Homo sapiens: one gene and its partner. The protein of the gene in region 1 interacts with the protein of each later gene in a pairwise test. Each region holds a gene or a part of one and is shown on either strand. Other genes may lie near its edges.

Region 1 (5,578 bases):
TGATTAACGTTTTCTGGCAACAATTAGTGGAAACATCACACTTGCAGTTTAAACTACCAGAACACATTATACCATTTGATATTGTGAATGGTAAACTTAGAAAAGGAGAAAATTTATTAAACGCTCTTTTTAAAAAGTCCTCTGCATTGTATAAAACATTAGGAATTTGGTAAGCTCATGTTTTTGTCTTTCAGTATCAAGCAAAGAAAGTAATGAATATGAATATTGAAACTGTATAATCAAAAGATGTAATACTTTTCTTAACCTATATTTGTAGGAACAGACACAAAGGTCTAAATTATGCCTTTCTTATATATATTTCTTTCTTATATTTATTCCAATACAGGTCTTAAATGAATTTCCATCCAGAAAGGAAAATGCATTATCTTTAGTTGTGCTATTTACAAATGATGATTTATTCAGTTCTGCAATCTGTAGCCTCAGATTTCATATTGTTCTTGCTGTGCATACTACTAATTGATTACTGTACAGTGATTATAATGAATATTCATGGACTGACTCATAAACAGTAACTGTTTTTGTTATTTTTCTGACTGTGGTTTTGGTCATAAATCCTTTATGCTACATCAGAGTGAAAGAAATAATACCCCATGAGGAGTCCTGTATACCTTTCCACCTGGCCTAACTTTATGCCTAAGGCACCTATATTAGGCCTTGATCTGGAATCTGCTACAGACCCAGTTATTTATCATGATACTTTGTATCTATGACACAAAGACAAATCATCATAGTGGTCACTGAGATGGAAGCACATTTTTGCTTCTATAGTGGACATTGCTGTTGATAGCCCATGCATTTTTCTTTTCATTAAAGTACTTTGGGAGATCCTGTAGCATAGGATTTGGGGGTCAAATAGATCCCGAGAATGAATATCAGCAATGTGGCTTATTAGCTGACTTAGTGATTCTTTGTGGAGTTGTGAAGAATAAATCATCTATGACAAGTCCCCAGCATAGGTCAGCTCGCAGGGAACAGTGGGGACCAGTAGTAAAGGCCATTCTGGCTTGAGTATTAAGGGGCAGGAGATTTCCTCTGAATATAAAGAGGAAATATGACCCTGTTCGTGTATGAAGACTATCCCACACTTATTTCTTGAGATACCAGTTTTTTATTTTTCCGTTGGTTCTTCCTTGTCCTATTAGTAGCCACAATAGGGAGATGGGGCAAGATTTGGCACTCGTATATATTTCTTCTGTAATCTTCCTTAGTTTGCTGGGATCCTGCTCCCTACGGGTTTACTCTCTAGACTCACTGCATAAGACGGAGGAATGATGAAGTAGAAAATACAGGCATATGGCAGGAGAACTTTCAAGGACTTTAATTTTGTGTCAAGTCTATAAAGACCTTTTCCTAATAGCTGTTGTGTTTGCTAAGACTTTCACTCTTTGTTTTTTGTTTTTTTTTTTTTGGTCTAACTGGGAAAGATGAATGTGAATCTACTATGTTTTAGGTTATATTCATTTTTACAATCTTTATATAACAAGATAAAACAAACTTCATGGATAGCATAGATGGCAAGAAACATGGCATAGTGAGTAGAGTGTTGATTTTACAGCACAATTTAAATCCTGGCTCTGACGTTTACTGGAGTTCTGGGTCGGCTAAAGTTTAACTAAAGATGCAGTTTCCTCTTGTAAAATGTTAGTATTAATACTAGTCTTACTAGTTTTGCATAGTTAGTAGTGTATATAATATATACTAACATATACTATATATGCATATGCACACATATATACACATACATATACACACACATACACACAAGCATGTGGTATATGTAGCATATGCCGGGGACATAGTAAATGCTAAAAAAAAAAGTTGCTTAAAATATGATTCATAGAACATGAAAATCACGATGTAATTATAATTAGGTATATTTTATGAACTCAAAATCACATTGCAACACGGAGCTAAAATACAAGGTCAAGCGCGGTGGCTCATGCCTGTAATCCTAGCATTCTGGGAGGCTGAGGCAGGCGGATTGCCTGAGCTCAGGAGTTTGAGACCAGCCTGGGCAACACAGTGAAACCCCATCTCTACTAAAATACAAAAAAAATTAGCTGGGTGTGGCCATGTGCCCTTGTAGTCCCAGCTACTCGGGAGGCTGAGGCAGGAGAATTGCTTGAACCCGGGAGGCGGAGGTTGCAGTGAGCCGAGATCGCACCATTGCACTCCAGCCTGGGCAACAGAGTGAGACTCCATCTCAAAAAAAATAAATAAATAAAAAAAAAGAAAGAAATACAAGGTATACTTGTATGTATTTATGTACATATGTATTATTAAGATTTATTCTACCTACTCCATTTTTGGAAGAAAAAATGACTGTTATTGTAAAAGTGATACTGTCTCAGTTTTTTAAAAAAGTTAAATGAAAAGGAAAGAAATAAAGAAAAAGTCATACCAAATGTCCCATCAAAATATAATCACCGTAAGCTAATTATGAACATCATTCTAGATTCCTCTCTAGAAATATATGCCAAAAGAAGAGTCGATAAAATGACTGATAGTTGCATATGGACAGGCAGAAATAATTTTCTAAAACTAGGATGATGATGATATGCTAATTTAAGTAAGAATAAGAAAATATAAGATTGTCAATGCGACAAAAGAAGAAATACATAAAATTTAATGAATTGCTAATAGATAAATGTTTCTTCTCAAAGATATTTATTCCTGAAGTTAATGGAAAAGATTAAGAAAAACTTTAAGATGTTGAATTACACTTATTTTACCAATTACAAATTTCCGTTTTATAAGTATTATTGACTTTCTCTAATGATAAATGAGAAGCATATTTTCACTTCTTCCCACCTCCTTGTTTCTTAGATCCTGGTTTACATTTCATTTCACTTATTATATTATACTTATTATATATTATAATTTATTATATTCATTATATTATAATTATGTTTGTGTTGTCAGGGTTGTTGATATTAATGTTAAATTATGTAATTTCATTTTAAACATTATTTTCCTATTTAAATGTTTATTATCTGTTTTGTTATCTGGTTTCCTTTACCTCTGAATTCCTTGATTTGATTGACTCTAATTACAGTTTATCATTTTTTTCCTAAAGTAGGTCCATGCACTCTATTCTTTGAATTTTATATACAATTGAGAGTATTTGTCTTTTACCTTTATCCTTGAAGGACAACTAACCAGATGCAGATTCTGTATTTTACTTTTTCTCTCAGAACATTATAGATATTGTGTGTGCTCTGTAAAATTCTAAGGCAAATTGATTTTCCCAAATTTCATGAATTGTTTACTTCTTTATCCTTGAAATTAAATTATTTTGCTAAGATATATTTGAATTTCTTGTCTAACTCTATATTTTGTCCTGCGTAACTGTGCCCCTGTTTATGACTTCAGTTAGGCCTGTGTTCTGGTGACATAATGTATATCTTCTGAAGTCTAAATCTGTACAGTTGATCCTTGAACAACACAGGTCAGGATTGCCTGGGTCCACTTGTATGTGGATTTTTTTCAATAAGTATTTGGAAAATTTTTGGAAATATATAACAATTTGAAAAAACTCTCAGATAAACTGCATAATCTAGAAATATAAAAAATCTAAGAAAAATATATGCCATGAATGCTTAAAATCTATGCAGGCACTAGTCTATTTATGGCTTAATAGACTATCTTTTTGCTAAGGCTTGCAGTCAACAGTAGACTATTAGTAGTTAAGTTTTGGGGGAGCAAAATTATATGCAGGTTTTCAGGGGCAGAGGGTGTCAGTACACCTAACCCCAGGTTGTTCAAGGGTCAGCTGTATTTTCGATTTTCTATTGGGTGTTTTCACCAAGATATCCCAAAATATCTCAAATTAAGTATGTCTAGAAACACATTTTTCTTCCTTCCATTTTCCCATCCGAGGTCCTCCGAGCTGACACATCTTTTTCTTATTCCCTCTCTCCATGGATAGCAGCACAACTTTACTTACCTGTACAAGGTGAAATTTGTATGGCAGCCTTGATTTCTCCCTCTTATAGTCAATGTTCAACTGTTGGTTGATTCTACTAAACTAATATTTCTTGAAGCCATCAGATTCTCACCATATAATAAAATATGCCTATTGCTTAATAATTTGTTAAATTTCCACAAAACTATTTTGAAGAAAGATTTAATCTCCAGTACCTGGCATAATGGGTGATGCATTTTGATGTTCAGTATTAATGGAATAAATAAAAATCACTTCCCAATCTGACATGACATAATGGGACATTATACAACAGCTTCTTATTTACCACCACACAAGAGCTTTTTAGTTTTATCTACATCTATATCTATCTGTCCAACTGTCCATCCATCCAACTATGTGTTTTAATTGTGATAAAAAAAACACACAACATAAAAGTTACCATATTAATCATTTTACATTGTAGACTTAAGTAGTGTTAAGTATATTCACATTGTCTTGCAACAGATCTCCAGAGCTTTTTCATCTTGCATAACAGAAACTATATTATACAACAGTTCCCCTTTTTCCTTTCTCTCCATCACTTGGTGAAGTGCCATTTTAGTTTCTGATTATATGAATTGAACTACTTTAGATGCCTCATATAAGTGGAATCATACAGAATTTGTCTTTTTATAACTGACTCATTTTACTAGCATAATGTCTTTAAGATTCATCCATGTTATAATTATATGTGACAAGATTTTCCTCCTTTTAAAGGCTGAATAATATTCCATTGTAGGTATATGCCATTTTGTTTGTCCATTCATTAGTTGATGGCCATTTGGATTGCTTGTACTTCTTTTATTGTGAGTAGTGCTGCAATGAACACGAGTGGGCAGATATCTCCTCAAAACCCTACTTTCAATTTTTCTGGATATGTACACAGAAGCAGGTTTGCTGGATCATATGGTAGTTCTAATTTTTTGAGGATCTCCCTACTAATAATAATAATTTGAAACAAAAAGTCCCTTTAATCTTCACAATAGTCCTATGGTATTAACACTTTTTATTATACTTATGTGAAGATTATGGTTTACATTAAGGTGAATTTCTAAAAATCACACAGCTTGGGACAAGAAACCATTTGGATTCTAAGGCCCTTGCTTTAAATCACTGGTTTCCAAATTCTAATGATAACGTAACTCATTTGCTAAAAAAGATTCCCCCAGTATATACACTTTTATAAACTACATCTATATAACACTCTACCAATACTTAACCCATTATAAACTATATTTAAAAGTACAAATATATTGGGCTGAGATTAAAATATATATAAATCCAAGTTTTAACATTTCCTTCTTCACCTCAATAGGTTATCTTATGCACTGCCTGAGTGTACACATACCAATTTGAATACCTTATTCTAATTTATAACACCATATTGCCTCTCAGAGAACATTGAATTTAAGACTTTACACTCAGCTAAAATACTTTCTGTCATCTTGTAATAAAATATTTTTATATGTAGAGGGAAACTAAGGAGGAATAATTGTTGACCTCTTAGTTATTAGTACATTCACAACTACAAAGATTTCCCATTGGAGAAATCCTACTAAAAACTCAAGTGGAGAATTCTATATGGAGTACTTA
Region 2 (4,880 bases), on another chromosome or scaffold:
AATGCTGTTATGTCTAGATGCTGTTAGGTGCCTATTACAAAGGAAAAGGAGAGTGAGGCTTTTCTTTCCCGGTTACACAGGTGTGCCAGCTGGATGCTCAGGTAAGCAGACAGTTATAACCTGCCCAGGTAGTTCTAGGGATCAGAGTGGGCCCTACAGGAGCAGCAACTACATCTTTTCACCTCTAATTCCCCAGTGTCTGGCCTCAAAGGCAGTAATAATAAACCATACTATTTATTGGGTATCCATGTGCCAGGCTACAGTATCATGCACACATGCACACCTCATATCCCATTTGGCCCTGTCGCTTGATGAGATGAGCACCATCCCGCTTCTTCCCTGGTCTTTGTATTATGGAGCACAGACACGCCAGGTGGCTCAAAGTTGTGGAGCCAAGGCAACACCCCATCCTTCCCTCAGAGCAGAAACAGCAAGGCAGGAAAAAAGGCCCAGCCTCCCTAGGACTTTTTTTTGGTAGCACCTGACAGAGCCATCACTCAAAGTGATAAGTGAAAATGGGAATTTATGAGAAGCTACAGGAGTCTCTACCTGAAATGCATGCAGGACTCAGGGTGGCAGATCAGGACTGGTTTTTGTTAGTTCAACTGCAGTTAGTGGCAATTACAATTTTAAACAAGGTCTTAAAACTCGTATCATTACATTCAACATCCATTATCTTGTTTGATTTTCGGAAGGGCAAGAAATAATAAAATAATAGAAGCTAATGCTTTTATACCTCTTGCCATATGCCAGGCCTTATTCTAGAAACATTAAATCCTCGTAACAACTGTCTAAGGTAGGTTCTATTATTATCGTGTTCATGTTGGAGAGGAGGAGACTGAAGGGGAGAGATTAAGTAACGTGTAAAGGTACTACAGCTAGTTCATGGCATCTGAACTCACACAGCTATGCTGGAGCTATTATGGAAGCCACCATGCGGCTATTGGAGACTTGGAATGCTCCAGTCTGAATTGAGATCCGCTGCAAGTGTGAAATACATCACTGGGCTTCAAAGACTTAGTACTAACTTAAGAATGTAAAATGTCTCATTAATAATTTTTATGGTGATTACATGTTGAAATGATGATATTTGGGAAATCAAGGGCTAAATAGCATTGAAATTAATTTCACCTGTTTCTTTTTTACTTTTTTAATGTGACTACAAGACAAACTGACACATGTGACTTGCGTCATTTTCCTATTGGGCTGAGCTGCTCACACCCACTCCCCCACCGCTGTGGTCAGGCACGTGGAGACTGGCCCTGAGGATGCGATATGGGGATATGAACACCCTCAGCCGCCTTCTCTACCCCTCACATCTCGCACAGCTGCTGCATTCTTCTCTCCCATGGCAGTCCTTGGTCTCCACGTGGCAGAAAACAGCTGCAGACAATGCCAAAGCTTGATGGCTTTGTCTTCAGCCGCTCCAGAGCCTGACTCTTGCCCTTATTGTGCAGAGGAGGCAGCTGAGGCTCAGACGTGCAGCAGGCCAGGGCCCAGGGGGTGGGCTCCACTGCCCACCACGTTATACACCACATTTGTCATTTTGTAAAGGCTGGGCTTGTATATATTAGAAGGTATAATTCTTCAGCTTTAACATACAGGCTGATTTCCTGTGTGCTTTCAGGAATTCTTGCTGAGACAAACCCCTGGCTTCTGAGACCTTGTTAGATCATGATGTGTCCTTGGATCTCATTTTCTAGGCTGAACCAGAAATGAGGAGAGAGAAAATAGCAGATCAAATATTTTCTGAGGCATCCTGTCAAGTGGGCCCCAGGACTTTTAAGCCTCTGTATTTAGACTCTGGATTCTGGACAGTTTCCAAAAGGACACTGATCTTGAGATCTGGAGAGAGGGGACATTTCGTGAGTACTGTGAGGAGCGGCAGCCAGCCGCTTTTTCCTCCAAAGGATCTCTTTAGCTTTTCAGAGAAGCTGGAGAGGACTGTTTCCAATTTACTTCCTGGAATTCAGGGAGGGCGTGGAGTGTTTTTTATTATAGTATTCTATTCTCCCATCAAAGTGGATTTTCAGCAAGCTTCATCTGCAAGCAAACCTTGTCCCTTTTAACACCAAACACAGGGAGAATTGCCCTGCTGGGTGAGATTTGGGTGTCCTCCTCCACCAAGGATGAGGCCTCCCCTGAAACACTCCTGGGGCTCCCAGTGGGAGTTCAGGACTGTGATCCCTTAGTTCAATTGCAACTAGTAACAATTACAATTTTAAATACGACTCTAATTTTGTATCACGTTTTGTTTTCAAATCCACTATCTTATTTGATTCTCTGAATAACCCTGTAAGGCAGACTGGGCAAATGTTAATATCTCCATTTTACAGGTGAGGAAATGAAGGCCCAGATAAGATGAACTGACTTTCACAGTCACGCGATCAGTAAGTTACAAAACTAGGACTGGGACCCCAGTCTTCAGAATCCAAGCCCAGTCATTGCACTGGGTTTTCCTCAGTAGCCAAGTGAGGCTTTGTCATCCGCACGTTTATTGAGACCCTTGAGATCCCCTTGTTTTATAAATTATAATAATACCGGTGGGCTGGGGAGGTCCTCAAACGCCAGTGGGACCTCGACCCCAGCCAGTGTCCAGGCGCTTGACACCATCTCAAGAAGGAATTCAAGGATGAGTCAGAAAATTGTGAAAGTATGGTGATTTTTTGCAAGGGAAAACAGTACACACTCAGGAGAGGGGGCTGTGGGCATTCTCAAGAGAGAGTTGGGCAGAAGTGTTTGGGGTTTCTATCTTTATGGGTTTCTTTAACCAAGAGGTGGAATATTCATGAAAATTCCTGGAAAAAGGTGGAGATTTCCCGGAACTGTGGTGCCACTCATTTCTACACCAAATATGGGTGTTCTCGGAGCTGTCGTGGCACTGGTGGGTGTGTGATTGAGTACATGAATCAGCGTATAAAGAGGTCCTAGGTGAAACCTAGATCAAATCCATCAACATGTTGGGTCCAGTGGGTCTTAGCCAGCTTGGTCCACACCCTGTTTTTCAGGGTCTTATCGGTCTATATAGCCTCTAATCATGTCAAATTGCTGCCTGGGATTTTTCTCCTATGACCACCCTGGATTATTCCAGTCTCCGTAAGGGCGGCCAGTTCATTCAAGGTTATTCAACAGCTGCGTGTTGAGCACTTACTCTATGCAGTGCTGCGCTAGGCTCCAGCAGCCCAGCTGAGAGCAACATGCAGGGCCCATACGTTCCTGGACCTTCCATTCCAGGGAAAGAGCCAGAGAGTTAACAAGTCAAGAAACAAACAAATACATAATCACAAATTGGGCCAGGTGCCTTGAAAGAACAGGATGGGATAAGAGCATATGCAGGATGGGTGCAATGCTTTGGATCACGTGATCAGGGCAGGTCTCTCTGAGGAGATGATATGAGACCTGAGACTTGAAGGATGAGGCTGGCAGCTACCTGAGGGCTTCCCAGAGGAGGTTAAGGACTGGGGGCATTTTAGGCACAGTTCTTTCCAACCGTGGAGCGTTTACAGTGTCAAACACTGGGCTAAATAGAATCTTTGAATGCATTCCTTCACTCATTTCTCACACAAACTCCCTGAGGTAGGTATACTATTATTTTCATTGCATAGTTGAGGGAATCAAGTGCTGGGTGTTCCATGGCTCTTAACCACGGAGTTAAATGCCACTCCTATCTGTCAGTGTGTCAAAACCTGATAACCAACAGGCCAGATTTATTTGAGCATAATTTACATCTTCCAATCTGCAACGGGAGACTGTTCAGCACCCAGGCCTAGTAGGCTTGCTCAAGACAAGTATTCCTGGAGCTTCTACTACTAGCAGACACATTCAGGAAGGATCAATGAGAGGCCCACGTCCCCACTTTTGGCACCTCTCACATCACAGTCTGGGCAGAGGGCCCTTGGGAATAAACCAGAGGGCCATGTCCTGTGGGCCAGGAGGAAGACTTCCCTGACAGTAGACCCAGCCTGTGGCACTTTAGCTCCTAGCGCTTTTCTAGAACATGTGTATTGATGAATCATTAGCTACTTAACAGAGAGATGAGAAGCCCAGGGACTGGGCAGCTGAAAGCCAGACTTAAGAACTCATCCAAGTTCAGCCAGCTACAGTGGCTCACACCTGTAATCCCAGCACTTTGAGGCGAGGCAGGTGGATAACGAGGTCAGGAGTTCGAGACCAGCCTGGCCAGCATGATGAAACCCCGTCTCTACTAAAAATACAAAAAATTAGCCGGGCATGGTGGTGCGCACCTGTAGTCCCAGCTACTCAGGGGGCTGAGGCAGGAGAATTGCTTGAACCCAGCAGATGGAGGTTGCAGTGAGCTGAGATTGCGCCACTGCACTCCAGCCTGGCAGCAGAGCGAGACTCCATCTCAAAAAAAAAAAAAAAAAGAACTCATCCAAGTTTATCAACCCACAATTCCATTTCTGGGGTTTAACCAACTAATATTTTTTATCCCTTTAGTAGGAAGGCTCTAATGAAGGCTTCCATATTAAACTAACACCTTCCCACCCCCAGAAAGGACAATTTAGGAACTCAGATTGTTTTTTTACAGGTGAGAAAGGACTAATACTTACCTCTCTTCTGGTTAATTGGACAGCTCTCTATGGAGCACCTACTCTATCTAAGGCATTCTGCAAGGCTGGCCCCACCCTAGGGGCCAGAGAGGGAACAACCTAGCCCCTATACTGTAAGGGGTCAAAAGCAAGGAGGGATTTGATCTGATTCGGGTTAGAAAAGCAGAGGAAAAAAGAACAGATTTGTATCAAGGGGTGTCAGTGCTCTCTCTTCTGGATTTCAGCCACTGTCTGGTTTTCTCTTCGCTGTGGATTTTCTTGAGGGCAGAGTCTGCGTCTCCAACACTTACTAATTAAGCAAATATTTCT

The links. Proteins that work in one complex are often made in the same cells at the same time.
Region 2: the proteins of NOL4 (region 1) and C1QTNF2 interact in binary tests that used the Homo sapiens proteins (3 or more experiments, as listed by UniProt).

Annotation. Positions count from the first base shown.
Region 1 is NC_000018.10:34,213,951-34,219,528, reverse strand, and holds part of NOL4 (nucleolar protein 4), read left to right. Parts: intron 1-5,578.
Region 2 is NC_000005.10:160,360,302-160,365,181, reverse strand, and holds part of C1QTNF2 (complement C1q tumor necrosis factor-related protein 2 isoform 1 precursor), read left to right. Parts: intron 1-4,880. UniProt on the Homo sapiens protein: Involved in the regulation of lipid metabolism in adipose tissue and liver.